Linked DNA regions of Homo sapiens: region 1 is linked to region 2. A link means that fine-mapping ties the variant in region 2 to the expression of a gene that starts in the linked region. Tissue or cell type: whole blood. Region 2 holds a variant in brackets; the other region holds the start of a gene. All regions are shown on one strand. Distances are from middle to middle.

What was found. PIP is the estimated chance that this variant, and not a neighbour inherited with it, causes the effect.
Region 1: it holds the start of CD58, and the variant in region 2 is fine-mapped to the expression of CD58 in whole blood (TOPMed, PIP above 0.99).

What each region holds. Positions count from the first base shown.
Region 1 is chr1:116,569,965-116,572,585 of GRCh38, forward strand. It overlaps CD58 (CD58 molecule), which reads right to left and starts at 1,062. Exons shown (of 6, transcript NM_001779.3): 1 at 939-1,062. The coding sequence starts at 1,008. LOC124904385 (a long non-coding RNA gene) reads left to right here and starts at 1,011. Exons shown (of 2, transcript XR_007066497.1): 1 at 1,011-1,089. RefSeq lists an enhancer at 134-193 and silencers at 664-733, 804-1,263.
Region 2 is chr1:116,518,199-116,520,957 of GRCh38, forward strand. It overlaps CD58 (CD58 molecule), which reads right to left. Exons shown (of 6, transcript NM_001779.3): 5 at 1,033-1,069. Among named protein-coding and RNA genes, the nearest start is that of MIR548AC, 41 kb to the right of the region's middle. The variant T/C (reference allele first, on the strand shown) is at 1,067.

The DNA.
Region 1 (2,621 bases), 52 kb after region 2:
CCCCCTTGGCTGTCTTCCATAGATGCACACGCGCACCTCCCGGGCAGGCAGCGGACGCTGAGCAAACGGACGGACGGGCTGGAGGGCTGGCAGTGGGGTGCAGGAGCCAGCCATGAGAACCCCTCAAGTACAGTTGAACTCGCTGGGAGGTTACTGCTGTACTCCCGGGGTTTTGCTATGGCCTGACTGGGGCCAATGTGTGGAGGGTGAAGGAGGATGGGGAGGCAAAATGGGAAGAAGGGGACCTATTTCCTGAGGTTGTTGTGACGACTTGGCTGACAACACACGGAGAGGATGGAACCAGTTCTGATACTAGTTTTTAGGATTTGAGGGGAGGAAAAAGGAGCAGGAGTCGCACCACTTAGGAATCCCAACGTGAGGCCGCTGCCGACTGGGCTTCCTAGTTGCCTACCCGCTCCTCGCTGTGGGGCGATTCTGAAAAGTCCTCTCTGCTGATACGGCGGACGCCGCGCGGGCGGGGACGGCACCGCGCGGGGAGGGCAGCAGGCGTCGCCCTCGAGCAGGTGGCATCCGCGCCCGCTCCCCGTCCCGGGCGCGTTCACGGCTGGGAAAAATTTTGCAGTCCGCTGAAGCGCTCAGCGACGTTACTGGGGAAGCCCAGGAAGGAACTTGGTCACTGGAGCTCGGGAGGGGGCCGGCGGGGGGGCGCAGGCCCCGCAGGAGAGGCTAGCGGGCCGGAGCCCGTCCTTCCCTAAGGCCACACAGTTCCTTGCTGACTCCATGAGGGACACTGGCGATGAAATAACAACTTTCTCTTCCTGAAAAGGCTCCCACGGCTGAGTTGTTCCCGGCCCACAGCGACCCGTCCCCACCCGTCTCTGATCGGCAACCGCCTCGAGCCCGGCGCGTCCACCCAGCCTGGGTGCTGCCCAGTACCCGCCGGCCGGCGCGGGGCCCCTGGGGCAGGCTTCACTCACCAAAGCAGTGCAGCAGGCAGACCACGCTGAGGACCCCCAGGGCCCGCCCCGCGTCGCTCCCAGCAACCATGGCTCGTCGGGCCGGCCTCTGCGCGAGTGCCCAGCCACAAGCAGCCCTAAGTTCAAGCACCGCCTACGCGGTCGGCCAGAAGTAGGGCTCCGCCCCGCCCTGGGCTGGCAGCCGGCGGCCCGCCCCGGCCCTTCCTCCCCCACCCTCCGCGGCGCCGCGTTTGTCTTCGCGCTTCCACTCCCCGGGCGCGCCTCTGGCCTCGGCTCTGCGCGCCTCCTTCCTGTGTCCCCGGGGCGCCGTCCAGTCCCCCAGCTCGGTCCCTCCCGTCATTCCGCCGCCATTCCATACGCTATTTTTAAGTAAGAAATTCTTTCCTTGAAAATGGCTTGGTTTTAAAAACCAAGGTTTTAAAGTAAGAAATTCTTTCCTTGAAAATGGCTTGGTTTTAAAAACCAGGTTTCTCTGCCTTCCTACCGCACCTCCCGCGCTTCCCCTTAGCGTTTGGGGCGTGCTGTAGGCCCCTCCGTGGCTAGACGGGGCTGTGGCTCCCAGAGAGCCACCGGAGGAGGCAGCAGGACGGGCGGGAGCACCCGGGGCCCCTCATCCCTTCAGCGCTGTGTGATCCCGCATCAGACGGCCTCTTTGAACCACTTTTCCTCAAACATGACAAGGAAAGGGAGCATTTTAGACAACTGTTAGGCGTAGGGTTACCTGAGGCAGGCCTCCCCCGTCCCCATACTCCCTTATCCCCGGAGCTGGGATTTCCAGCCTTTGGTTTCTCCCTTCTCAGATTCCTCTTTTTCTGTCTTCCCCCATCTCAACCGGGACTTTCCCTCAGGCTGAGATGTCAGATCCACATCTCCCTCACTGCCCAGCCTCCCCACATCCATCCAGCCCAAGCTGAGGCAGGCACTCATCACTCTCCCCGCTCTTCATCAGTCTGGATTGAGCTGGCCCTCCCCTCACATCCCTATATCCCAGAACAAATGACCCTATTCCCAGAACCAGCTCCTCACATCAGCCTCCCTGTCTGTCCCCTTTCTTGCAGACAGAAGCACCAGAGTTGCCCCTGCCCAGCTGAGGGAGTTCACAGAACTCTTAGTTATTATGTGAGCAGGAATCCATTTCCATGAACAGGACTCCCTGCTGCCCAAATAACCACCAACACATACATGGTGCAGGTTGTGAAACTGAGTGGGAATGTGCTTTCTTGCTGCTTCACCTCCATTATCCCCAGGTGGGGACTCGAAGTCACTCAAGACACTTGAACCATATTGCAAAGAGACATGAATTATTTCTTAAGTTAGCCATAAAATCTTAAAAGGTATCTCTATCAGTGAAACTTCTGGGACCAATGCCCTCTACCACAAACCTGCTATCTCGAGATATTCCCTACCATCTGTAGATACTGGGAACACAAGGCAGGGGCAGTGTGTAACATAAAATATGAGGAAATCAAGTGTTCTCTGCCCTGGGCTGGTAGGAACTCAGGCCAACTTAGAAAGGCAGGATGGGGTTAGACCTTCAGACACTGGGGAGCCACAGAAAGTTTTTGAGCTGGGAAGTGATATGACAGCAAACATCTATTGAGCAGGCCCTGTGTGAAGTGCATTGCTTGGATTAACTTAGTCTTACTGCTGCTGTTGTTTTTGCAAATGAGGAAACTGATGCCT
Region 2 (2,759 bases):
GAACCAGGGAGTTTGGCATCAGAGCCTACACTGCCAGATGAAAGTTTTGCTAACAGGACCTCTGCTGTTTCTCTCAAACCTAGCTCTGCATATTCAGTTCTGCCACCATCACCTTGACTCAGGCCCTCTTCTCTGCTTGGCTGGATTATTTCATTACTCCACTAACCAGTGTCCTCATCTCATCTCCTATTAATTAGTCCCATGCTTTGCCAGCAGAGTGATCTTACTAAAGCATAGTTCTGCTAGAAAACTCTGCGGTTCTCCCTAAAGAATGACCCAAAGCCTCTCTCAAAGTCTCAGCCTGGCCCAACCTGCCAGCCCAGCCCCATCTTTCTCTAATGCCTCAACACTCTCTGCTCCAAAGAGGATGGCTTGCTACTTCTTGTCCTGCCCTTCACACCCTGGGCCTTAACTCTTCCCCTCATCCCTCAACACCCAGCTCATGCCTCTGCCTCCTGACCACCAGTGGGATCTGCCAGGAGGGGGCCTCTTGGAGCACCCTACGGCGGTTTATTAAACCAACACTGCTGCTAATTGTGTTTGTGTCCTATCTTTTATATGTGACTACAGGCCCAGCTCTGACCCTGGCTCCTGAAGTGAACCCTATCCCTGATCCAACTTTTTCTGGGATGGGAGGTGGAGGGAGTGTATTGTAGTGGTTAACAGTATAACTCTTGGAGTCCAAAGACCTAGATTTAAATCCCAGCCCATCACTTACTAGCAACGTGACTTTGATATCTCACTTGACTTCTATGAATCTCATATGCGCTGTCTCTAAGCAAGGGGTATGATACTCCTCCTGCAAGGCTCATTGAGAGGGTTCCAGGAAACGATATGCAGAGAGTGGCTAGTGCAGTGCATGGCACACAGTTGGTACTTAATACACTATGGTTAGTATATCTGCTGATGTTACTTCTTATTACTGTACAAGGCAACCAACAGATGAGTACAATCTGGCTTCCCAAGTAATGGGCATCTACAGCAGGGCTGCTGTTGTTCTGGCACAGAGTGCACAGCCTGCAGTGTACTTACTTGGTTCTGTCTGGTTTTCTGTCACATTTCAGAA[T/C]ACCTAAAAATGAAGAAATTGTCTTCTCAATTAAAGAACTGAAAAGAAAAGGTGAAATGTGGAGTTACTGACTGCCTATTAGAGGCCTAAATATGGAAAACTAAGCCAGAGCCCCATCACCCTGGGATTTCCTGCTATCCTATATGCTTTAAATCAAATCGGCTACAGAGCTGGTCCAAAGAGTTGTTCAAAAATTGGTCAGAACATGATAGAAAACCAAATGCAAAAACTGTTGACAAAATGGCTAATTTTACCTCGTGCATAAGGCTGAAGATGCAGGGAAGGCTAGAATAGTTTGGACCAGTGCTGTCCAATAGAAATATAATGCAAGCCACATAAGTAATTTAAAATTTTTGGTATCCACATTACAAAGTAAAAAAAAATGTAAATTTTAATATTTTATTTAACACAATGTGTCACAAATATAAAATTATTTCAACATGTACTCAATATAAACATTTTTTAATGAGATATTTTATATTCTTTCACACACGGTCTTAGAAACATATTATTTTACACTCACAGCACATGATAATTTGGACTCCCACATTTCAAGTGCTCCATAGCCACATGTAGCTCATGGCTACTATTTCAGACATTAAGACACTGCTCCCACACATGCATGCATCACTTTCCTGCCCACAGTAGGCATCCGCCTGACCCTAGAACTATGCTAGTGGTTCAGAAGCTTAGTCAATAGGGTTGACTAGAGCTTATAAAGTTGTCTGTCAACTACAACTAGGCAGCTGGAGCTGTTTCCATTCAACTCTTTCCTCTTCTGAAGATTCCATGCCAAACATCTCACTATTTCCCAATTAATGACTTTAAGGTTGCTTAAAGGTTGAGATGCTTGCTGAGTTTTTTTGTTTGTTTGTTTTTTGAGACAGGGTCTCACTCCATCACCCAGGCTGGAGTGCAGTGGCACAATCTCAGCTCACTGCAACATCTGCCTCCCTCCCGCCTCAGCCTCCTGAGTAGCTGGGACTACAGGCATGCACCACCATGCCTGGCTAATTTTTGTATTTTTTTGTAGAGATAGTGTTTCACCATGTTGTCCAGGCTGGTCTCAAACTCCTGGGCTCAAGTGATGCACACAACTCGACCTCTCAATGTGCTGGGATTACAGGCATGAGCCACCATGCCTGGCCTCCAAATTGTTTTTTTTTTTTAAGAACAAATTTTTTCAGATTATCTGGGGCTAACAGTACTGACCAGGGGAGTAATTTTCTGTATATTGAATGACTTTTTTTTTTTTTTTTAAGTGAAATCAACCAATTGTTTTGAAGTTCTATGGAAACTCAGTGCCACCTCTCTTTAGTTCAGGTATCCTGGGTTAGTTCTTTAATTGAGATCTACAACAACACTGAGTGGAAAATGATTTTGGTTTCTGGGAACCAACCTGTTCAGGAGATGATTAACTATTATACTGCTATTTGGGGATTAAAATAGATTTTTAAAAAATTTGAGCTCCCAAAATATTTTATGCATTGGGCAATAGCTGAAAACTTTCTTCAGCTGATCGTTATAATACTGTTTAGTGGAGAGTCAACTGACTGATAATCTATTACTTAGGGATGGATTTTCATGGTATTTACAACTTATAATATGAAAATGTTATCATCAGGAAATTATATTTAGCACTGATATCGCAAAATAGTCTAGTTCTGCACTGACCAAGAAAACTTTCTGCAAT